Homo sapiens: one gene and its partners. The main gene of each other region encodes a partner of the protein of the gene in region 2 in a complex. Each region holds a gene or a part of one and is shown on either strand. Other genes may lie near its edges. The genes, in order: SNRPF, RBM48, SNRNP40 and SNRPE.

Region 1 (4,724 bases), on a different chromosome or scaffold from region 2:
TTACATTTTGTTCAGAGAACTTTTTTCTCTTCAGTGAACAAACCGTATGCCTTCAGCCTGAATGTCAGTTCCCAATTTCTGTTGTGCCCTGTCTGTACAATCATTTTAATTTTTAGAAGATGCTTCAATTTTAGCTGCAATATGTGCATTTAGCTTATATTGACACAGAATTAACATGTAATTTATTGACTACTAAGTAAAATAAGACAGTATATTATTAATACCAAGAAAATGTTTAATTTTATACGTTAAAAGTAGCTCAAAAATAACTTTAAAAGAAAAAGTTGCATTTAAAAGGTCTCAGCTAATAGATAATTTTACAAGAAAAGGTCTGAAATTCACCTTCATAAAAATATCTAAAGCATATAAATAATTATCCTTTATGGGAAAAAAAAGAATATTGGGCTTACAAAAGAAAAGCAACTTAAATGAAATTCAGTGGCTTTTAAAGCATTAGTTCAGTGAGTAATCTTTCCCAATTGGTTCATCATTTCAGCTTTGCTTGTAAATATCTGAATACAAATAGTTCACAAGTCAAGTTGAAAAACAAACAAATCTTTATTGTCTAGAAATATATATAAAAAAAATCCCCCACAAAAGATGCTATTCTCTCATTTCCCCATCTTCTTCCTCTTCTTCCACACCTCTGATATAAAGGACATTATTACACCTGTAAATAGAAAAAGTCGATTTTGTTGTTCCAACCAGAAACCATGTATGATATGAATTACTATATTTTTATTATGAAAATACTGAATACTATATTTATAATATTCTTGTCTTTAAAAAAATTTTTTAAATATATTCATTTTAAAAAAAAGTTTCACATAGATTTGTTGAAAAGCACATGGCACTTATTTTCCACCATATGGTTGTTATAAAATGACATCTTTATGATTTTCCAAAGGAAATAATTACCAGAATTTGGAGCTTTGAAGCTAGTACAGAAAATCAATATAACAAAACAGCCAGACCCAACTAAAATTCAAAACTAAGTTCCCGCAACAAAGGCCACTGCAAAAGGTTGCCACTGCAAAAGATTATAGCTAAGAGCTAGAAAATTAAACATCAACACTAGAAAAATCTTTTGGCCAGTTCCAAAACATTTGAAAACTTACCTTTGACAAGTTTAACAATTTCAAAGACTTCTGAAGTCTAACTGTAAAGTATTATAATAGTGATTTTTTAAAAAAAAGTAATTCCAAAATTGAGGCACTAATATATTTAGAACAGGTATTCCTAATGCTCACCAGTAACTCCTTACATATACTACTGCTGTTTGTTACCTTATTAAAACTTCACCCAGATGTCCAGACAAAGCTCCATCTATGTATTCTTCTGTATTTGCAAGCTTTCAATAAAAAGAAATATATTAGTATAATCACACAGGAGGAAAATATTACAATACAGCTAATATTGGTGAGAGAACTCATTAACTGAGACCTTTCTATACCAACAACTCAAATTTATCTATAATTAATAAACAGAAGATGAGCTTTCTATTACTATTGTAGTACTTTTGGTTTCATATAAACCTTCAACGAAATTAATATTCAAAGCTTGTTTCAACATAAGTTTCTGAATCTCCCAGGTTATGTAATATTTCTTTCTATTAGATATTAAAACAGTGTGTGGAAGAAGGCAGTCTCTAACTCATATTGAGGTGTCCAAATAGGTATACGAAAGCTATGGCTAACATGCCAAATACTTTTATATTAGTCAACAACCAAAGCAAATAATTGAGTAAGAATTTTCTTCTTTTCCTGTCTTTTAAGAAACAGGGTCTCCCTCTGTTGCCCAGGCTGGAATGCAGTGGCACAATCATAGCTGACCAAAACCTTGAACACCTGGGCTCCTCCTGCCTCAATCTCCTGAGCAGCTAGGACTAAAGGCATGTGCCACAAAGCCTGGCTACTTCGAAACAATTTTTTCTGTAGAGATGAGATCTTGCTATATTGCCCAAGCTGGTCTTGAATTTCTGCCTTCAAGTGATCCTCCTGCCTTGGCCTCCCAAAGTGCTGGGATTACAGGCATAAGCTATCACATCTGGGCCTGAATAAGAATTTTTAATTATGTACTAATAAACAGGGAAAAACAAGTTCTTAAGAGAAAGGTAAATAGTTAACAGTGACCTTTACAGCTATTTTGGTGAACTACAGCAAAGTAGTGTGTTTCCCTTATGGTATTATTATGAATCGAATGTCTGAGCTCTTCTTACTTTACCTACAGTTATTTTGGTGAATTATTTCTAATTTTATATCAAAATGTTTAGCTTTCCTTCTACATATAGGTAACAAGCTCTACTTGTAATTAAAAGAAAAATCACAATCAATGCCACTTGGGACTCAGAGAAGGAACTAAGGAGTGATGGGAGAGAGGGAGGTTTCCTTCACAATTAGGCACGTGGAAAAGGAAAAGAAAAATAGGGCTTAACAATAAGGATTAAAATAGGATGTTTCATAAGGCATGAAAAACATGGTAATGAACACTACTACTGGATGTTACTCCCTTTCTTATAGACAACAAAAAGTAATCTCCATTATCCAGATGATATAGTTTTGTCTGAAATATACGAGGTTGTTGAGACAGTTTGTATGTAACAGCTATAAGAAATAATGTATTAAGAGCAACTAATTTTTTGTAAAAAGTAATTACAACATTTAACATTTCTAAATTACACAATAATGTTCCAAATACTTTCTATCATGTTCTTCACCATCACTTAACAGGCTCTCTATGGCCGCCATTTTAACCTAACTTTCTGTCATTCGTCCCTTAACTCAATCTGCTCTGGCCTTTTTGCTGTGCCTTGAACACACCAAGCATGCTTCTGCCACAGGGCCTTTGTACTTGCTGTTCCCTCAAACTGGGATGCTTTTCCCCAGATACTCAACTGAGTTGTACACTAATTCTGGTATCTTCCAGAATTCGCCTCCTCAGAGAGGCTACTCTATATAATATTGCACATACTGTCTTCCCCCTTTTCTTCATGGATGGCATCTATCATGCCTATTATCACATTATATTACCACCTCCCACCACTAAACCATAAACTGTTGAGGGCAGGGACTTTGTTTTGTTCAATGCTATATTCACAGTGCCAGGCACATAATGGAATTCAATAAATATTTGCTGAGTGAACAAATTCAAACACTGGTATCAATATGGTTGACTACTCAAAGTGGTTGGTTACTCAGACATTTTGCAACTCTAGCAGGGTCACTAGCAAGCTATATTAATTCTAAAACAAATATTAAGTGGTAATTCTTTTATTATTGAGATGTTAATTTCCATAGCATAAAATTCACCCTTTTAAAGTGTACAATTCAGTGGTTTTCAGTATATTCAAAAACCTGTGCAACTATCACCACTACTTCCAGAATATTTTCATCACAATTCATATACTTCCCAGATTTTTCTATGGTCTTGGTAAATGACTCCTGTTTAAGGAATTTTCCACACTCAAACTATGCTTTGGGGGCCTTAATGTCATGTGCTCAGGTGGTAATTGCCTAAGTTAAGGAAAATCATAGCTCTCTGCCTACTTAAGTACTCCTTTTAGTACTCTGCTTACAAGTATGGAATCCTTGGATTCATGATTGGATTGACCACCTGTCTTGATAGCCTTTAAAAACCTGCCTGGAAACTACTACCATTAAAAAAACAACAAAAAATCCCAAACTAATTTTTTAAATGTGCAAAAGACATGAACAGGCATTTCTCCAAAGATAAACAAATGGCCAATAAACACATGAAAAGGTGCTCAACATCATTAGCCAAATGCAAATCAAAACCACAATAAGATACCACTTCACACCCATTAGAATAACTATTTTATAAACACCCATAGAAAATAACAAGTGTTGGTGAGGATGTGGAGAAACTGGAACCGTTGTGCATTGCTGGTGGGTATGTAAAACCACGTAGCTGCTGTGGAAAATAGTGTGACAGTTACTCAAAAGAAAAAAAAAAATTTCTCTGTCATCCAGGCTAGAGTGCAGTGATCACAGCTCACTGCAGCTTCAACCTCCCCAGGCTCAGGTAATCCTCCCAACTCAGCTTCCTGAGTAGCTGGGAATATAGCTGCCCACACCATCATGCCTAGCTAGTTTTTGTATTTTTTTTGTAGAGATGCAGTTTCACTATGTTGCCCAGGCTGGTCTCAAACTCCTGGGCTCAAGCAATCTGCTGCCTCAGCCTCCCAAAGTGCTGGGATTACAGGCATGAGCCACCACGCTTGGCCTCCTTAAAAAATTAAACATAGAATTACCAGTAATCCAGTAATTCCACTTCTGGGTATATACCCCAAAGAGCTGAAAGCAGTGACTGGAACAGACATTCGTATACCCATGTTCACAGCAGCATTATTTACTACAGTCCAAAGAGGGAAGCAACCCAGTGTCCACCAAGAGGCAAATGGATTAGAATGTGGTATATCCATATAATGGAATATTATTCAGTCATAAAAAGGAAATTCTGACACATGCTACAACATGGATGAACCTTGAATAATACACTACGTTAAGTCAAACAAGCCAGACACAAAAGGATAATACACAATTCCACTTACATGAGGTATTATGCACGGTCAAATTCATAGACATGTAGACTAGTGGTTACCAGGGGTTAGTTAGGTGGAGGAAGGAATGGAAAATTATTGTTTAATGTTTAATTGTAAAATTATTGTTTAATGGAAAATTATTGTTTAATGGGCAAAAAATTTC
Region 2 (6,923 bases):
GATTTCACCATATGCCAGGCAATGTCATAAGCGCTTCACTTGAATTAACACCTAAAAACAACACTGTAATGAAACTGAAGCACTGGGACATTATGTAACTTAGCCATGCTCATAGTCTGGTTTGAGGAGCAAGGATTCAAATCCAGATGTCTTACTTCAGAGCCTACCAGACTACGTACTATAGAAAACAGAAAAGCTCTAGAAAATGTTTCCCTAACCATGGGAGCTGGCAGGTTGGTTAAGAAAGTGAAATTACATATAACAGCAGCCTGAGAAAACCACACAAGACCCAGTAAAATCAAGTGCTTTTGTGGTAGACTATGAGTTCTACTGATAGCACAAGAAAGAAAATATGAATTGTAATAGCCAGAGAAGGATGGGTCTCAGAGCAGATTAGTGAGGAGAACAGAGATCAATATAAAAATAGATAAGGCACTGCATACTTCAGCCTTTTTGGAGCAGAGGATTATGTCACATAGAAGGCTGGAAAAAACTGAGTCAGTTTGCAGAAAGGAGTAACAGTAGAAACCACAATAGCTAATGTTTACTGTATTCTGACCAGGATACACCTTTATATGGATTATCTCATTTCATCCTCATACAACCCCAAGAAGTAGATAGGTCCCTTTACCATACAGATTTTATGGAAGAGGAAAAACTTAAACAGGTTAAATAACTTGCCCAAGATCATGAAGCTAGTAAGCAGTGGAAATGGAAAACTTACTCCAAACCCAACTTTTTTTTTCTTTTGAGACAGAGTCTCACTCCATCACCCAGGATGGAGTGTAGTGGCCCATAAGACTCACTGCAACCTCCACCTCCTGGGCTCAACTGATTCTCCTACCTCGGCCTCCCAAGTAGCTGGAACTACAGGAATGCACCAACACACCCAGCTTGATTTTTGTATTTTTACAAAATACAAAATACTGGCCATGTTGGCCAGTCTGGTCTCGAACTCCTGGGCTCAAGCAATCTGCCTACCTTGGCCTTCCAAAGTGCTGGGATCAAATCCAACTTTTTCTTTTTTTTTTTTTGAGACAGTCTCACTCTTGCCCAGGCTGGAGTGCAATGGCATGATCTTGGCTCACTGCAACCTCCACTTTCTGGGTTCAAGTGATACTTGTGCCTCAGCCTCCCCAGGAGCTGGGATTAAAGGTTTGCACCAACACAGCCGGCTAATTTTTGTATTTAGTAGAGTGAGGGTTTCACCATGTTGGCCAGACTGGTCTTGAACTCCTGACCTCAGGTGATCCACCTACCTCGACCTCCCAAAGTGCTGGGATTACAGGTGTGAGCCACGTGCCTGGCGTCAAACCAGAATTTTTTTTTTTTTTTGAGACAGAGCCTTGCTCTGTCATCTAGGCTGGAGGGCAGTGGCATGATCTCTGCTCACTGCAATCTCCACCTCCCAGGTTCAAGCAATTCCCATGCCTCAGCCACCTGAGTAGCTGGGACTACAGGTCCGCACCACCACACCCGGCTAATTTTTGTATTTTTAGTAGAGGAGGGGTTTCCATCATGTTGGCCAGGCTTGTCTTGAACCCCTGACCTCAAGTGATCTGCCTGCCTCGGTCTCCCAAAGTGCTGGGATTACAGGCGTGAGTCACCACGCCCAGGCTTCAAACCCAAATTTTTTTTTTTTTTTTTTTTTTGAGGCAGAGCTTCCCTCTTGTTGCCCTGTCTGGAGTGCAATGGCGCAATCTCGGCTCACTGCAACCTCTGCCTCCCGGTTTCAAGCGATTCTCCTGCCTCAGCCTCCCGAGTAGCTGGGATTACAGGCCTGCGCCACTAGACCCAGCTAATTTTGTATTTTTAGTAGAGAGGGGGGTTTCACCATGTTGGCCAGGCTGGTCTCAAACTCCTGACCTCGTGATCCGCCCACCTCGGTCTCCCAGAGTGCTGGGATTGCAGGCGTGAGCCACCGTGCCTGGCCAAACCCAACTTCTACTCTACCAAGCTACAGGACATTAAATTGTTAAGCATGGGAATGATGTGATGGATACAGTGTTTCAGTAAAGTTAACTTTTAAAAAGGCTGGAGGAAGATATGCTAGATTACGTTTTGGGGTAATTCAGTTATGAATGAGGGAAACTTGGGGCCAAAATGACAGAAATATGAATGGAAGAAATGAGGAAATGAGTCATTTCTTAACTTGCACATTACCTTGCACTTTGTAAGTTCATAAATTTAATAAGATAAACTTCAGTAAAGTCTTCTGCTGGGTATTCATCTAGAGCATTGTACTGTTCAATTGCACCATATAAAGCGAATCGCTCAACTAATTCCTTCATGACTCCCACAGCAGGAACTCCTTGTATTAATAAGTACTGAGATTCCAAATTGATTGTATATACCTGAAAGAAATGCAGAGTTATTAAACGTATTTCGCAAATAAGCCTAGGACGAATCTGCCTCTATTTTTTTTTAAAGAGAACTTTGAAAACAAGAAATAATCTGTTCAACCCAGTCAGCAAAAGAACACAAAATGAAATTTCTGCCATTCCTTCTGCATAAAGAATAACAGTCCATGTGAGAGGCTACCTAAGGCATATAACAGACTACCTTCAGTCGACATTTTTTTCCAGAAATTGAGTCGGTAGAAGTCACTGGGAACAATCACTCAACGAATATTCACTGAGTGCTTACCTGTGCCAAGTAGTACTGTAAACACAGAAGATCCAATGACTAAAACCAAGGCCTATTCTCGTGGAGTTGATGTTCTAATACTTGACCAAAGGCGTCGTGAGAATCTTTGGTAACTGACCGAGGGTTCTTCACGCCAGCTCTAACGAGAGACAGATCTGACGGAAGCCTTGTCGTGCCTTTATTTCCGTAGGCTGGTCATATGGCGCTAGCACTCACATAAAGCTACCGAGGAGAGCGAATGAAACCAAAATCACTTTACCTTCACAGCACGAGGCCGTCGTCCCTCTCGATATTTGGCCCGTGTGTCGCATACCGCCCTCTGGACGTGGTGATCAAATAAACTCCCTAGCTCCCCGCCGCTCGACGCCATCTTGCCTACTTTGATCCTCGCAGGGAGGACAACATCCGCCCTACTGAGCTCCCTTTTATCCAATAAGAGAGCGGGATGAGTTAAGGAGTGCCAGGATTGGCTGGAGAATCGACAGCGTCGGCCATCGTTTCCTGCGTGCGAAGATTTGATGAACGAGGTGCCGCCCCCGAGCGGCTCGGCGGAGAGGCGCGGTGGGTGACAGAAGCTTTCTTGTCCCACCCACTACAGGCTTACGGCAGGATGCGCAGCGGGGAGAGGGGGCGGGGCCGCAGGGGGCGGGGCCGATCGATCTCCTCCGGCTCCGACGTCCTCGGCCTGCCGGGTCCCGGGTCCTTTGCGGCGCTAGGGTGGGCGAACCCAGAGCGACGCTCCGGGACGATGTGGGGCAGCGATCGCCTGGCGGGTGCTGGGGGAGGCGGGGCGGCAGTGACTGTGGCCTTCACCAACGCTCGCGACTGCTTCCTCCACCTGCCGCGGCGTCTCGTGGCCCAGCTGCATCTGCTGCAGGTAACCTGCCGGCCCCGAGCCACCTGATCTTCAGCCTGGGGTCGGACGAGGCCGAAGCCTCTCAGGGACGCGGCGGGACACCGGCTGCCACCCGGGCGCCGCCGAAGCGCGCAGAGATCAGGGTCCCTCGACGGCAGGGCCCTTCTGGGTAGTCTCTGGATCCCACAAGTCCAGTGCAGCCCTGGGCTCGTCTTATCCCAGGTCTTTTCACTTGGTGAAACTGAACCTAGAAACGTCCTAATATTCTACCACTGTTTTTATAAATATTCCTTATTCCAGGCTGGAAAAGCTCCTGAGAAGTGGTTTGTTTTTATTATTTTAAAAGGTGTTTTCCTTGCCAGCCATTTCCAGTTAACCTGCGCTGCTGCCGTCCGGGCCGCGAGAGCGGGACGCAGAGTTGTTGGCGGAGCCCCTGTCGGTTCCCGGGGACTAAGCACCGCGTCCCATGAGCGGGAAAGGTTAATACAATGATGGTTCTGCCCTGCGTCGCTGACGCGGAACACAGCTGTAGTGTGTTAGGAACACATAACGTAGTTAAGATCACTTGAAGCTCTGCGATCAGTCGCCCTTCTGGACGTTGTGGTTAGGATGTTTCACAGTTCTAACCACTGGTGGAGATACAGCGTCCATATTTTCATAATTAAAAATAGAGGCACATGGTCTCACGAGTTTGAGTGTACTTATGGGGGCAAAAGGACGGCGTATTTGAAATCCTCATAAATCCTGGATGCATGGTACCCACCAGTGGCTAATCTATGCAATGAATAGAGTTTGCAATAATTTCAAGCATCCCTTCTTTCCACTTGAGTTACTTCCCCATACCTAGGGGAAGATATTTTTGGTCCACTGAAAACATGAGTTCAGCAGAATCCTCCTATCATCGTCGTTATTATTTTTTACCACTAAGTAGACAATCTTTTGGTTTTTGATGGGCTTTATGGCTAGAGACAAATCAGTCACTGTCACCAAGTTCCAGGTAGAAGTTGGTTCAGTGCTCTGTCAGCTTCGATGGGATTTTTCAACATGTTTTCAAATCTGCACTTAATAGTAGGAATGCTTTCTTACAGTAACTCTAATTTGATCCTAAGATGTAGTTGTTACCTTACATTCATCACTGTTTAAGAATTTAGTGGTCTTGATCTTTGTTTTAAATTTTGAGCCTTCGGGAAGTACTTATAAGAATTAATTCATGCATATCTTTTTGAAATGTAAATGTCTTTAGCCCTGGAACAAATTGCTGTTTCTGTTCAGCCCATATTAGCAGAATAGGTCAACTTTACTTTCTAATTATCAATGTAATAAGTTTATTACTTTATAGATTCCATAAATCTATACATTTATTCCTCGATGAATTATATAAATTTATAGAATTTATGTTTTATAGAAAATTTGGAAAGCATGGAAAATTATTAACAAGAAAATAAGTTACCCATAATCCCAGAACTTAGAGGTGACTAATGTTGACAGTTTGGATCAAATCTTCCAGTTTTGTTTCTAATCTTTATTTTTAACATAAATGAGGTCCTGTATACACACGTACAGTTTTGTGTCCTGGTGTTTTTATTTAATGTTATTATGAGTGTTTTATTTTGTTAAAAGGTCATCATTTTAAGTTGTTAATTAGTATTCTAGCACAAATTTGCCATAATTTATTTAATTGTTTACTATGATTGACCATTTAGATTGTACTTAATTTTTAGGCATTAGAAGTGATAAACTATATTTTAATCAGACGTTGAAAATAACACATCTTTGTTTAGAAAACATCATTTTATTTCTGGTTGTCTAGGATAGATTCCCAGAATTCTTGGGTTAGAGGCCATAGATAATTATGAAAGCAGAAAGATTCACAAGTTGGGAGTTAATACTTGAATTACTTTATTTGGGGTGAAGCATTGAGTGCATAATACAGATCATGCAGTAATGGGAAGAAGGGTTGGAACAATGGTTTTCTGGCCTATGTCAGACTTACCTTGAAGCTTTTAAGAATACAGATGTTCTGATCAACCCTCAGACCTATTAAATCAGACCTAAAATCTTAGGGAATAGGCTTTAGGCATCTCTAATTTTAAAAAATTTATTCAGGCTACTTGGATGCACAAAAGAGTTGAGACCTACTGTCCTAGAATCATAGAATTTTAATGACGATAGAGACCTTAAGCATCTAGGTCGTTTCTGTACTTTTACATGTAAGGAAACTGGCATTCCTAGGCCAGTACCATTGCCATGCAGCTAATTTGCCCTCTTGTCTATAGCTCACTCTGCATCACCCAACCTACCGTTCTCACTGTTTCTTCTATAACCAATCTCCTTCCCACTTCTGTTCTCTTACTCATGCCATTCTTCCCTCAGTCATTTTTCTTCCTTCCATACAAATTCCATGTCTTTAAAAAGGAATAATCCTACCTCCTCCACATAGCTTTCCAATTCTCTGTTGCCCACATTTGTCTCCCTTTCAATACTTCTCTGTTGTGTTATGTGACACATCACATTTGATATACTCTGTACTGTGTTTCAAGTATTGTATTCTCTTGTTTACTCAAGTCATTATTTCAGGACTGACTACCCAGTAGATGCTTTAAGTCAGGATTTCTCAACCTTGGCACTGTTGACATTTTGAGCTGGATAATTTTTTGTTTTGGGGGCTCTCCTGTACATTTTAAGATGTTTAACAGCACCCTTGGCCTCTATCCAGTAGACGCCTGTACTGCCTCCCCCTATCTGTGACAACCAAAAAGGTCTTCAGACATTGTCAGATGTCTACTGAAGGACAAAATCACCTCTGGTTGAGAACCACCGCTTCAACTAAGTTATCTTCTCTGTACTCAGAACTTGATGTGATTGCAGCAGGGGGAGAGGATTCATATACACAGTGAATGCAAACGAACCTAAATCACCATTCGGATATGGCCACACAATTTTCATTTCCCTTGTGTTAGCAAGAGATACCCTAGGCTTTGGACCTGATTATTCCTAAGGCATTCTGATGTATGGTTTTACCTGCAGATTTCCTGGTAATACTGATACCTCAGTTTGGGTCAAAGAAGGTCAATTAATTGATTGATTTGATTTGACTCCTGGAAAAGACGCTCCTTTCTAGCTGTCTCTTTCTTCTCTTTACCTGAATAGCCAGGGCTCTGTGGTTCAAGTGAAGTATTTTGACATAAAAATTAACTTAGAACATTGGTCTGCAGAGTTTGCTCAATATAACTGAGCACATATTGTGGCTTTATGGAGCTGGTTACTACTTTTTGACCAAATAAATAATTAGAAGTATTTTTCCTCCTCAATAAGGTTCATTTTTCCTTTTTTCAGTGAGCTGGTAGAGTTTCCTTTTTTGATATTTCAGGGCATCTTTCATATTTCCATCTCTTAAGTTTCTTCATATGAAGTAGAATTT
Region 3 (6,756 bases), on a different chromosome or scaffold from region 2:
GGCTGGAGTGCAGTGGTGCAATCTCTGCTCACTACAAGCTCCACCTCCTGGGTTTACACCATTCTCCTGCCTCAGACTCCCGAGTAGCTGGGACTACAGGTGCCCGCTACCACGCCTGGCTAGTTTTTTGTATTTTTAGTAGAGATGGAGTTTCACCGTGTTAGCCAGAATGATCTCAATCTCCTGACCTCATGATCCGCCTGCCTCGGCCTCCCAAAGTGCTGGGATTACAGTCATGAACCACTGCACCCAGCTGTAATTAAATTTTTAAATTATATTTACATACTTTTTTTTTCTGATGAGCAGTTTGTTTCTGGCATTGGCCCTTTCTGAATTGCAATGTCCTTTTTTTCTCTTTTCCTCTCCACTGTTCCTTTAAACTTTACATGTGGTCAATGGTGCACACCTTTAATCCCAACACTCTGAGAGGCTGAGGTGGAAGGATGGCTTGAACCCAAGAGTTCAAGACCAGCCTGGGCAAGATGGCAGGACCCTGTCTCTATAAAAAAAATATTTAAAAAATTAGCCAGGCATAGTAGTGTGCACCTGTAGTCCCAGCTACTTGGTAGGCTGAGGCAGAAGGACCCCATGAGCCCAGGAGTTTGAGGATATAGTGAGCTGCAATCATGCCACTGCTCTCCAGCCTGGGCAACAGAGCAAGACCCCATCTCTTTAAAAAAAAACAAAATCACATGTGAAAGCGTGGTATGAGGAAAGCCTATCCCTCTCTACCTGCTGGGGGTTGGCAAGATTTGACAGGCCACCTCACCAATTGGCCCCAAGTCAAGAAGCAGCTGTGTTACATAAGGCTTCTGGTTCCTGCCAAATGTTGCCATGCCAAAGTAAGGAGAGGGCAAGGAACCCCTCTAAATTTAGCATCTAATTGGCAGCCATCAAGAGTGAGACCTTGAAGTGTAAACCCTTGGAGATCTGGGATTCTGTCTTTTATGTGCCTGGGAAATGTATCCTCAGAAAACTCCTTTTCAGCTTGGCCTGGATTTGGCAAACTTCTCCTTTCTACTAACTAATAACTTACAGATCACCTCCTCATATTCAAACTTGAAACTCTGAATAGTCCTATAGGCTACGGGAAGGCTGACCAGTCTCTCGGCCAAGAGTGATTTATTCAGCCCATTGACTTCATGAGATTCTGTTTTGATGATGAGTGTACTTATAATAACAATAGCTATAATTAATTCTGTGTGCCAGGCACTTTGCATATATTACCTCATTATTTTTCTCAACAAAGTTATGAGATCAATATTTTCTCCATCATTGTAACTAAGAAGCTTAGAGAAGTTAAATGATCTGCAATTATTTAACTTCTCTGAGCTAAGCTTACTTAGCTAGTAAATAGCTGCACTGAGACTTGAACCCCAGTCTTTCTGACTCCAGAGCTCATACTCTTTCACTATGCCATACTGCCCTTTATTGAATTAATGAGGACCAGCTTTTTGTGCATGACAAGAAAGAAGACAGTAGGAAGGGCATGAGTATCAGAGCCATGGAGTCTAGACAGATGGAGTTCCTGCTTCTCTTCCATCTTGTTCAGAACTTACTTTCTATGGAGCCTAGCTGATGACAGCTAAATAGTATAATTAAGAAGCTCTTGTTTATTTGCATTTTTGACCAAAAGTGTAAGTTGGATTAGAACTAGGCATTTTATAATCCAGTACTGGTGAATGTACCATTTTTATGATCAAGTACTGGTGAGTTGTTGATTGCACAAAACAAAATATGTAAATAATTTTAAATACCTGCTTCAAAACTACCAGCCCTTTATATTTACCAACAGATGAATTTTACATCATCAGATTAAGATAATAGCTCTATACTTTACCCTTTAATGACTTAAGCAAGATTGAGGGTCAAAGGAACTTTTTTTTTTTTTTTTTTTTTTAGCCAGTACATTTATGGAGGGTAAGTGAAAGTAAAATACGAGAGTATATTAAGAGCTCCAGAGTCTTGGGTTCAGCTCTGTAGTTTCTGTGGCTACTGAAGAGGTGGTCAGGAACATAGGAACCCCCTGCTGGGCTCCTGGTCACTTCTGTCTGCTCCATGGCAGGAAACCTTCAGCACAGGACATCAAGGCAAGCTTGAATAAGAAAAACAATTTCTTCTTCCTAAGCCATATCATATCAGTTATACAGAAGTACTACTTTGGGACACAGTCTTCAGGAGAGCCTAGATGAGCTCATAAAATCTCAGCAGTTCACTCAACTTGCCCTTCAAGTTTTACTTCAGTTTGATAAGGCTATAAAGTCATCATTGGCTCAGAGGATTAGGAACAGAGTTGATTTCAGGGGCTCTCTAAATACATACAGATTGTGCCATATGCCACGCATGGTGGCTCATGCCCGTCATCCCAGCACTTTGGGAGGTGAAGGCAGGAGGATTGCTTGACGCGAGGAGTTCAAGACCAGCCTTAACAACATAGGAAGACACTGTCTCTACAAAAAAAAAAAAAAAAAATTAATTGAGAAAAACAAAAAGATTCTGTGATAATATGTAGACTTTTGTGAAAATTATGGCCTGTGATGATAAAAATACTGGCTCTAATACTATAGAATGAATAAGGAAAAAATCACATTTTTATGACATCTTCTGTTATTATTCATCACTTTTGAAGAGAAATGTAGAAGTTTTTTTTTATTTATTCTAGCATTGCAGAAAGTACATTGTGTTATTTCAGTATTTCAGTAGTATTTCAGTAGTATTCAGAGTATTTCAGTAGAAAGAAGCTTAAAACTCTATAGCCTCTTACATTACCTTTATTATACAGCATGAAAAAAAACATAATTTTTTTTTTCTTGAGACAGGATCTCACTCTGTCACCCAGGCTGGGGTGCAGTGGTGCCATCTCAGCTCACTGCAGCCTCTACGTGCTGGACTCAATCAGTCCTCCCACCTTGGCCTCCCAAGTAGCTGGGACCACAGGCATGCACCACTACACCTGGCTAATTTTTTTGTAGAGATGGGGTTTTACCATGTTGTCCAAGCTGGTCTCAAGCTCCTGAGCTCAAGCCTTGGCCCCCCAAAGTGCTAGGATTACAGATGTGAGCCACCATGCCCAGCCTCATAATTTTTTTTAATGACAAATAAAAATTTTGTCTTCCTAAGAACATTCTCTAATAAGCTCTTTTTTTTTGAAGAGTTCTAATTTTAGTTACGCCGTTGATGAACTGTATTGCCTTGGAAACGTCACTGTGCCCCAGTTTTCTTATCTCTAAAATAAGGAGTTTAGAGAAGCTGATTTCTTTTTTCTCCTCTTTTTTTTTTTTTTTTTTTTTTTGGAGATGGAGTCTCACTCTGTCACCCAGGCTAGAGGGCAGTGCCACGGTCTCAGCTCACTGCAACCTCCACCTCCCAGGTTCAGGCAATTCTCCTGCCTCAGCCTCCCGAGTAGTTGGGATTACAGGCACACGCTACCACTCCTGGCTAATTTTTTGTATTTTTAGTAGAGACTGGGTTTCACCTTGTTGGCCAGGCTGGTCTCAAACTCCAGACCTAAGACGATCCACGCACCTCGGCCTCCCAAAGTGTTGGGAGTACAGGCATGAGCCACCACTCCCAGCCTAGACAAGCTGATTTCTCTTGGCCCCTTCCCATTCTAGAATTCAGTATTCCTTCTGCCTGTTAATTCAATGGAAAAGTTGGCTCAAGTGAGTATTAGGTTAGCAAACACTATAAATATTTTATATACCAGACACTTCCTGTCCCTTCTCAGGTCTCTGTTTGAATACAGTACTAAAAAGTTCATCTGGATCAGCAGCCTAGGCTCCCACCCTGCCATGAGTTGGGTTACCTTTTAGATTTCCTGGATGAGTATGAAGTTAACTGTAGCCTAATTATACTAGACACTCTGAAAAAGGTTTTTGTGTGATGTCTGCAGGAAAAACTTTCTTTTCTTCCCTGTGGTGTTTCCCATTTCAGAAGCTTGTATTCAAACATGCCAGTCATGCTTATATTTTTAGTTATTCTTATTTCTCCACCCCATTGCTCAAGAGGTGAGTCCATGTCTTATTCAAACTCTGTGTTCCTAGTTTCTAAAAGCCAGAACATGGTTCAGTAAATGTAAGGTAAGTAAATAATTGTTGCTTCCATTTCCTTTAAAAAGCCATGCCTCTGTCCTACCCCCAGCTCTAAGAGGACTTACCCTTGCTTTTCATGATACCTTACAGGTTTGTTTATGTGTGGGATACCACAAGCAGGAGAATATTGTATAAGCTGCCCGGCCATGCTGGCTCCATCAATGAAGTGGCTTTCCACCCTGATGAGCCCATCAGTAAGTCTGTCCCAACGAGGGGGAAAGGGAAACTGGAAATCTCCCCGTAGGGATCCTGGGAATAGAGAGTCAAAAGCGGGTATCTGTTTTATACGAATTTCCATGCAAACAGCCTTTGGGTGTTTTTGTTGTTGTTGTTGTTGGTTTTTTTGTTGTTGGGTTTTGTTTTGTTTTGTTTTTGAGACAGTGTCTCGCTGTTTTGCCCAGGTTGGAGCAATGGTGCAATCTTGGCTCACTGCAACCTCTGCCTCCTGGGTTCAAGCAGTTCTCCTGCCTCAGCCTCCCAAGCAGCTGGGATTACAGGCACCCACCACCATGCCCAGCTAATTTTTTTTTTTTTTTGTATTTTTAGTAGAGACGGGGTTTCACCGCATTGGTCAGGGTGGTCACGAACTCCTGACGTCCAGTAATCCACCCGCCTCAGCCTCCCAAAGTGCTGGGATTACAGGTGTGAGCCACTGTGCCCAGCTGCAAACAGTCTTTATGTGGGTATCAATGTCAGTCTCACCATTGCTCATAAGTGGTGAGAGTAAGAGCAATGCTCCATTTTCTTCTTGATCTCAAAGGGAAGTTGGTAAGTCTAATTTTTTTTTAAATTTACTTCCATCAAGTCTGTTTCAATGATGTATTTGATTAAAAGAAAGATACTTTTTTTTTTTTTTTTTGAGACAGAGTCTCACTCTTGTCGCCCAGGCTGGAGTGCAGTGGCACGATCTCGGCTCACTGCAACCTCTGCCTTCCCAGGTTCAAGCGATTCTCCTGCCTCAGCCTCCCAAGTAGCTGGGACTACAGGCACCCACCACCACACCTGCCTAATTTTTGTGTTTTTAGTAGAGACGAGGTTTCACCATGTTGGCCAGGCTGGTCTCAAACTCCTGACCTCTGGTAATCCACCCGCCTCAGCTTCCCAAAGTGCTGGGATTACAGATGTGAGCCACTGCGCCCGGCCAAGAATGATACTTTTTAATATTTAGATATAAATTTCAGCTTAAAATTTTTTGGCTGGCTAAACCAAATAATTTCAGCCTTGAATTAAAGGAGAAACTGTAACTTTCTCCAGGGCTAAGTATAACAAGCAGAAGCACATTTACAAAATGACTGGCACAGCCATAGATTCCTCTCTTCTAGAATGACTGGGAAAGTCTTTTTCTTGGGGTTTGACTGACAAGGGATGTCAGTATTTAGTGTCTGATAATGTATTTCCCATAGTACAGTCATCCTCATGATATTAGAGGACTTGGATTGAAAAGCCAGGCTACAATTTCCTGTGGATGGTGTTTAGGAGGGGAATTTAAGCTAAGTCCAATTGCTCTTTTATACCAGAATTGGCTCTTGACACAAGAGCCCTTGAGCACCAAGTCTCCTTGAGCCTTCATTATTTCTAGTTATCTGTTCTTTTTACCTCAGTTATCTCAGCATCGAGTGACAAGAGACTGTATATGGGAGAGATTCAGTGAAGATATGGACTGGAAGACTCCAAGGCCGCTTGTCTTTGAGACCTCAGACTGCATAAGTGATGCCAAATGTTGGATGTCCAGGCTAGCACCCTCCCTTCAGATGACCATTGCTAGCAAGAAACAGGAGGCGGTGGCCATATTCCAAAAACCACTTCTGTCCCATTTCACCAGGATGACTAAGGCAAGCTCCCTGTGGCCTCTAAAAACCACCTGCCAGATTTCAGGGACTGTTTTTTTTTTTCTTTTTCTTTTTTCCTGTTTTCTAATGCAGGCCCAATGTGACAAATTTGTTGGTTGGGATTTTTTTTTTTTTTTTGTAACTGGCTTGTATGATATTTTCTTTCTGTATTTCTCTATATCATTTTGTATTAAAAGCCAAATAGATGCCTTTTTACAAGAGCCATGTGGATTGGATTTATTGCTGTCTTTTTTTTGAGGCTTGATTGCTATAAATCAGAATAGAGCATGATGTGGCCACAGAATACAATTCATTTAAACTTCCAAGAAGCTGCTCACTTGTTTTTTTTTCCCCCCTTTTCTGTGTTTTTAGGTTTACTTACTTCCATGAAAATGACAAAGAATAATTATCAGTAACAATACTTTTTTCCTACTAGAAGGATAGCAGCCAGGAGGTGATAAATAAGTTCTAAAAGAACCTGGTTTTGCCAGACGCGGTGGCTCATGCCTGTAATCCCAGCACTTTGGGAGGCCAAGGCAGGCGGATCACCTGAGGTCGGGAGTTCAAGACCAGCCTGGCCAACATGATGAAACCCCGTCTCTACTAAAAACACAAAAATTAGCTGGGTGTGGTGATGCACATCTGTAATCCCAGCTACTCGGGAGGCTGAGGCAAGAGACTCACTTGAACCTGGGAGGCGGAGGTTGCAGTGAGCTGAGATTGCGCCACTGTACTCCAGCCTGGGCGACAGAGCAAGACTCTGTCTCAAAAAAAAAAAAAAAAAAGAACCTGGTTTTGTGTACTTGCATCTGATCTTTAATGAACAGAGCCCGTAT
Region 4 (7,035 bases), on a different chromosome or scaffold from region 2:
AAAGTACAACTTAAAAAGCAAACACCACAGGCTCCAGTAGAGCAGGAAAGCAAGCAGAGATTTCTAAATACAGAGCTCAATTGTAAGAGTTCACTGTACCTTAATTCTCACTATCATCATTTGCTCTGTCAAAAATAGAACCTTCCATGTCTTGATCCATTCAGAATAAGCCACAGCAGGCACAGCTCTGCTTCCACAGGGCAGCCAGGTCAGAAAGGCCACACAGGGAAATGGAAAAGGCAGCCAGCAGGTTTTCTTAGAGATTATACTCCTCTGGGCTTTTATCCTTCTTCCCAGCTATTCTGGTGCCAAGAAAGCTGCAGGGAGGTCTTTGCTCTGCTCTGAAAAAGCTTCAATTCAATCTTCTCACCAGCAGGGCTGAAGCAGTCTCAGGGCTGTAACTCCCTCTGCTGCCCAATGTTTTCTTTGCATGTTGTGATCAGTTTAATTAATTTCAAACTCAAATGTTAAAAGAACTAATGCAGCCCTTTATTTCAAAACATAATCAAAAGAGCATGAGTTCAGACAGGAGGAATATAGATGGAATGCATGGTTCAAAGCTGGATACACTTCTGCATTCACCTACAAATCTCCTCTATCTCGGAAAGGATTTCTTTTATTCAGTTTCATGAAAAGTCTCCTTCACAGGCATGTAGAAAAGCAGGAGCCAGACTTCTTGGTCCTTCCTCACCCGTCCTTAATAACAACATGGCCTTTAGCAGAACTTAAGGCAGGCCTTATTCATCTTTCAAGATCCAATTTAAATAGCACTTAGAATGAGGCATTAAAACCACCTGCTTACCTGTCTGTTTCACTGTATTGATTCAACAGTGTCTAGCTAACAGCAGATGCTCACTATCTAACAGGATTCTAACTAGAACCATGTGCGATACTGGGGGAAGGGAAACCTGTCCATATAAGAATTCAACCAGCAATCACTGGGGGAAGAACCAAAATTCTTAAGAGATAAGAATAAGAGACAGGTGTATTTCTCCAACATACCATTATTCTGCCTAACAATTTGCCTACCAGCTATGCTTGTGGTCCTTTTCAGATTACCAATCTCAGTCTCTTTCCTGTAAACTCTTAACTGATTTTTAATGTACTTGAAAGGCACTTCATTCTTTCCCTATATCCAAATACTTCTCACATTCTGATCTTAGCGATAAAATTCACAAAGACCTCACAGTGACTCAATGAGAGTGTTGAGCAATACTGACCCCATTAAATAATGTACCCAACATATTTAGGTTAGAAACTCTGGTATTCCAGCATCCAGAACTACAAGTGATGAAGACTTTTGTTAGTGCAATAACTCTTATTTATTTTTCTGAACCCTCCCCTTCTCCACCTCCCAATACTGGAAGCTTACCCATCAGGCAGAATTCCTAATCTGCCTCAAAATCTACAGGTCCAAGCTCTGCGAATACCAAGTGCTCAAGGCAACTGCGACCCTTCAGAAAACTAAATACCAGCAACGAATGGTGTTACTGTGTAAAAAGTTTCTACTGCTGAATAGTAAGAAGCAATGTAAATTTTTTAATACAAACAATCCCATAGTATTTATTGCCATCTTGTAGTAACACGAGGGTAATCAAAACAATATGAATAAATGTTCACATTGGACAAAGGACATCTAAAAACAAACTGTATCCTTCTCAACAATTTCTCACTTCATTGATCATTTCTAGTTGGAGACACTTTGTAGCAGAGTAATATTATCTCCTTTTAGCATGATCCGACCTGCAACACAAAAACAACAAAAAGCTATTAATAGCCACACACTCAGATGTTTTACTCTCAGAATTTTGTATCCAGTTTTTGAACAATATTTTGAAAATGCTTTCTTATAAAAATATGTGAACATTTTCAAGTGTCCATATAGTGAAAGGCTTTCTGGCTCCATTAGAATACATTTATCTTTTCAAGAGACTAACATAGGTAGATGACATTTCATGACAAATATCATTTCTATGGACTAAGTCAACTCAATAGGCCTCATACAACATTTCCCAATGCTGAATTTGTAATAAAAGTTTGGAAATGAGTCGTATGTCAAGTTTGGGAAATACAGCATATTATAACTCCATTCTTAAAGCTGTTAGTATATTAAAGACTCCACCCTATCTCTACTAAAAATACAAAATTAGCAGAGCCTGGTGGCGCGTGCCTGTAATCCCAGCTACTTGGGAGGCTGAGGCAGGAGAATTGCTTGAATCCGGGAGGCGGAGGTTGCAGTGAGCCAAGATGGCACCATTGCACTCCAGCCTGGGCAACAAGAGCAAAATTCATCTCCAAAAAAAAAAAAAAAAAAAAAAAAAAAAAAAAAAGACTCCATCCTACAATAAACAAACCTGTTTTACCCAAAATTTCCTAAGGTTATTTAAGACAATACTTTTCTGAGAAATTTATAAACATCTTCAGGAACACTGGTGTTCACTGGTAGAACGGTTTGAGACACGTTGATCAACTCCAACAGTAATTAAACTGTTCTACTTTCCCAGGCTTCTGCAGGTATTAATAACATTCTATTCTACAGGATAAATACTACCATGGGAATTCAACAGTTGGTAAATAATTTATGAATAATATGACCTCAGTAAGGCTAAGCTTGCCCGTCCTGGCAAGACATCTTTAAATCTAAAAAACCCGGCTGGGTATGGTGGCTCACACCTATAATCCCAGCACTTTGGGAGGCCAAGGTGGGTGGAATGCCTGAGCTTAGGATTCGAGACCAGCCTGGACAACACGGTGACACCCCGTCTTCTACTAAAATACAAAAAATTAGCCAGGTGTGGTGGCATGCCCTGTAATCCCAGTTACTTGGGAGGCTGAGGCAGGAGAATCGCTTGAACCCAGGAGGTGGAGGTTGCAGTGAGCTGAGATTGTGCCATGGCACTCAAGCCTGGGAGACAGAGTGAGACTCCGTCTCCAAAAAAATAAATAAATAAATAACAATAAATCTAAAAAACCCAGGCTTTCATAAAAATAGTCTAAGCAGGAAGCAGCCAGCGAAACACCATACTGCTTCTCAGAATCTACTTTCCATATATCTAGTTCAGGTTGAAGAGAATCCTGAGGGTCTGAAAGAGAGACACCTGAAACCCACCACTGATAAAAGTATTAGTGAGCATTTAACAAATAAAGACAAAATGCCTAAATAAACCTCAAGTGAATGGGATGTTAACAGAAATGATTCAGTGTGTCTTGATGAAACCGTGAATCCTAAGACCATTCATTAACTGGGTTAAGAAATACCATTCATTGCCAGGCTTAGTGGCTCACACATGTAATCCCAGCATTTGGGAGGCCGAGGCAGGTGGATTGCCTGAGCTCAGAAGTTAGAGACCAGCCTGGGCAACACAGTGAAACCCCGTCTCTACTAAAACACAAAAAATCAGCCAGGCGTGGTGGTACACGCCTGTAGTCCCAGCTACTTGGGAGTCTAAGGCAGGAGAATTGCTTGAACCTGGGAGGCAGAGGTTGCAGTGAGCCAAAATCACGTCATTACACTCCAGCCTGAGCGACAGAGACTCTGTCTCCAAAAACAAAAGAAAGAAATACCATTCATTGTTCAAATATTTTTTAGTTTCTATTATGTGCCAGGCATTGAGTTAGGTACTGAGCACACTGGGATCAAAAAAGGCATGACTCATACACTTACGGTGAAGCATCTGATAACAGGAGAGACACTAATAAAATAATTTCAATAATAAAGGTTTTACTACAAACTCAGGGAGCACATAATCCCGCCTTCCCCCATCCCCAGCAAAACCAAATTAAACTTTGAACTTTTTAGAGCAGGGCTTCCTAACCCCTGGGCCACAGACCAGTACCAGTCCTGGTCCCTGTTAGAAACTGGGTCACACAGCAAGAGGTGAGCAGTGGGCGAGGTGGCGGAGCTTCATCTGTATTTACAGCCACTCCCCATCACTAGTATTCCCGCCTGGGCTCTGCCTCCTGTCATATCAGTGGAAGCCTTAGATTCTCATAGGAGCGCAAAACCTATTGTGAACCGGGCAAAGAGGGATCTAGGTTGCGCACTCCTTATGAGAACCTAATGCCTGATGATCTGTCACTGTCTCCCATCACCCCCAGATGGGACTGTCTAGTTGTGGGAAAACAGGCTCAGGGCTCCCACTGATTCTACATGATGGTGAGTTGTATAATTATTTCATTATATATTACAATGTAATAATAATAAAGTGCACTATAAATGTAATGTGCCTGAATCATCCGAAAGCCATCCCCCACACCCCAGTCCACAGAAAAATTGTCTTCCACAAAACCGGTCCCTGGTGCCAAAATGGTTGGGGACCACTGTTTTTTTTTTTTTTTTTGAGACAGAGTCTCGCTGTGTCGCCCAGGCTGGAGCGCAGTGGCGTGATCTCAGCTCACTGCAAGCTCCGCCTCCCAGGTTCGCGCCATTCTCCTGCCTCAGCCTCCCGAGTAGCTGGAACTACAGGCACCCGCCACCATGCCCAGCTAATTTTTTTTTTTTTTTTTTTTTTTCAGGAAAGACAGGGTTTCACCATGTTAGCCAGGATGGTCTTGAATTCCTGACCTCGTAATCCACCCGCCTCGGCCTCCCAAAGTGCTGGGATTACAGGTGTGAGCCACTGCACCTGGCCTAGGGGACCGCTGTCTTAAAAGAAGTGATATTTGATCTGAGCTCTACAGACACAAGGAATATCATATACAAAGATTAATGGTTGGGCAAATCTGCAGATTCAAAGAACTGAAATAAGACAAGTGTTGCTAAAGCTCAGAAAGTGAGGCAGTGATACGAGATGAGCAGAGGGAGATAAGACTAGATCATGAAGATCATTAGATTTGCAGAATCATTAGATTTTTTTTTATCCTAACAGCAACAGGAAGTCATTGCAGTATTTCAAGCAAAGGGATGACATATGTTCAGACTGGTGTTTTTAAAAGATGAGTGAGGCCTGGAAAGCAAACTGGAGGTAGCTGCAGAGAAATCAATTAGTAAGCTGAACTGGAAACTGGTGCCATTCAATAAGGCAGGAAATAATAATACAATAGCTCTAAACAGTGTGAGTTGGAATTGAGTTTGCTTTCTGATATGCTGACTTTAAGAAGCCTTTGAAACATTCAAGTAGAAATGGTGAATAGGCCCAGACAAACAAATTTGGGAGTCAGTATTTATAGATGGTAACTGAAGCTGTACTCCAGTGCCTAGGCAGACAATACTGAATGACAGGAGGGCCTAGAACCAAGCCTGGAGCAACTCATTTAGTGATTGGGTCCCAAGAATGAATATATAAGTCTGAAAAATAGCCAGAAGTGAAAAATAAAAACCCAAGTATAATATCGTAGAGCCAAGGTGTGATACTGCAAAATATTTACTTGGTCTTCAATCCCATACAACTCCTAAAATCCTTAGAATCTCTAAGATGTTGCCTTTTTGTATGCTAATGATTGACTGATGGCCAGCAGCCCCTACAACGTTTCAGCATGGGAGCTGCTCACTGAAAGGACCAAGGCATTAGTGATGTCGGACTTTCAGCCCCACCCTCCCACCCGGGGAGGAGGAAAGGAGCTGAAGGTTAAGCTGATCACCAACGGCCAATTTAATCAGTCATGCCTACATAATGAAGCTTACATAAAAACTGAAAACAATGGGGTTCTGATAGCTCAACATGTGGAGGTTCCCAGAGTGGTGAGCTTGCAGAGGGCACAAAAGCTTCGCATCCCTTCCTATATGCCTTGCCCTACGCATCTCTTCATCTGTACTTTTTGTAATATCCTTTATAACAGACCAGTAAATACAAGTGTTTCCCCGAGTTCTGTGAGCTGCTCTAGCAAATTAATCAAACCAACGGAGGGGTCATGGGACCCAGTTTATAGCCAGTCAGTAAGAAGCACAGGTAAAACAATCTGGAGCTGACAATTAGCATCTGGTGGAGGACTGAGGGGCATGGAAGGCAATCTTGGGGATTGAGCCCTCAACCTCTGGGAACTGACGCTATCTCAGGTAGATAGTGTTAGAACTGAACTGAACTTGACGACTCTGAGCTGATGTCCACTGCCGAACTGATTGCTTGCTTGGTGTGTGGGGAAATATGCCCATACATCTGGTCACAGAAGTCTTCTGTGTTAATTATTGTCAACTGAGGAAACAGAAAAATCTACTTGGGTTTTTCCTGCCACTCAGACACGGGAACAAAGCGCTTTAAGGAGGGAGCAGCCAACAGTGCCAAATGCTGTTGAGAGTTTAATAAAATGAGGATTAGTACTGATCATTAGATTTAATACCACTAGTCTTTGGTTCCCTTGGTGAGAGCTCTCTGGGTGGAGAAGCCAAAATGGAGTGTGGTGAGGAGTGAGTAGTAGAGGATGATTTCAAAAGTGTACTACTACTCTGAATAATAACTTCTCAAATGCAAAATAAATTCAAACATGAACTGAGTTGCAGGTCACTGAATTCTGCAAGTGAATAAAATATTTCTAGAATTCTGTAAGACCACTTCTATCCTTACCCAGTTGTTTTCTTGACTTTGTTTTAGAATGAATCTCTTCTGCATCATCTAATACAAGGTTCATATACTCATCAAAACCCTAGAAAAATAAACAAACTGTTATCTTCAAAGAAAATCACATTCAAACCATTTTAAATGAGTATACCTATGCAGATAAAAACTCCAACTAACTTCAAAGATTCACTCTTCTCAAGCCCCACCCCACCTTCCACCCAAAGTTTTTTTTTTTTTTTTTTTTTTTTTGAGAAAGGATCTCACTTTGTCTTCCAGGCTAGAGTGCAGTGGTGCAACCTCGGCTTACTGCAGCTGGACCTCCTGGGTTCAAGCAATTCTTCTGCCTCAGCTCCCCCCAAGTAGCTGGAACTACAGGGCGCACCACCATGCCTGGCTACTTTTTGTATTTTTGGTAGAAACAGGGTTTCATCATGTTGCCCAGGCTGGTCTCGAACTCTGGAGCTAAAGTGATTCATCATGCTCGGCCTCCCTAAGTGCTAGGATTACAGGCGTGAGCCACCTTGCCCAGCAAAATATTTAA

Evidence for each region.
Region 1: RBM48 (region 2) and SNRPF share a complex: the UniProt entries of both Homo sapiens proteins name them as parts of the minor spliceosome.
Region 3: RBM48 (region 2) and SNRNP40 share a complex: the UniProt entries of both Homo sapiens proteins name them as parts of the minor spliceosome.
Region 4: RBM48 (region 2) and SNRPE share a complex: the UniProt entries of both Homo sapiens proteins name them as parts of the minor spliceosome.

Annotation. Positions count from the first base shown.
Region 1 is NC_000012.12:95,861,951-95,866,674, reverse strand, and holds the end of SNRPF (small nuclear ribonucleoprotein F), read right to left. Parts: intron 1,352-4,724; coding exon 1,287-1,351; intron 671-1,286; coding exon 604-670; 3' UTR 535-603; downstream 1-534. UniProt on the Homo sapiens protein: Plays a role in pre-mRNA splicing as a core component of the spliceosomal U1, U2, U4 and U5 small nuclear ribonucleoproteins (snRNPs), the building blocks of the spliceosome.
Region 2 is NC_000007.14:92,524,907-92,531,829, reverse strand, and holds the start of RBM48 (RNA-binding protein 48), read right to left. Parts: upstream 3,036-6,923; 5' UTR 3,017-3,035; coding exon 2,906-3,016; intron 2,355-2,905; coding exon 2,164-2,354; intron 1-2,163. Other genes in the region: peroxisomal ATPase PEX1, read left to right, coding at 3,395-3,523. UniProt on the Homo sapiens protein: As a component of the minor spliceosome, involved in the splicing of U12-type introns in pre-mRNAs.
Region 3 is NC_000001.11:31,259,058-31,265,813, reverse strand, and holds the end of SNRNP40 (U5 small nuclear ribonucleoprotein 40 kDa protein), read left to right. Parts: intron 1-4,181; coding exon 4,182-4,285; intron 4,286-5,692; coding exon 5,693-5,742; 3' UTR 5,743-6,246; downstream 6,247-6,756. UniProt on the Homo sapiens protein: Required for pre-mRNA splicing as component of the activated spliceosome. Component of the U5 small nuclear ribonucleoprotein (snRNP) complex and the U4/U6-U5 tri-snRNP complex, building blocks of the spliceosome.
Region 4 is NC_000001.11:203,864,585-203,871,619, reverse strand, and holds the end of SNRPE (small nuclear ribonucleoprotein E), read right to left. Parts: intron 6,580-7,035; coding exon 6,501-6,579; intron 1,744-6,500; coding exon 1,688-1,743; 3' UTR 468-1,687; downstream 1-467. UniProt on the Homo sapiens protein: Plays a role in pre-mRNA splicing as a core component of the spliceosomal U1, U2, U4 and U5 small nuclear ribonucleoproteins (snRNPs), the building blocks of the spliceosome.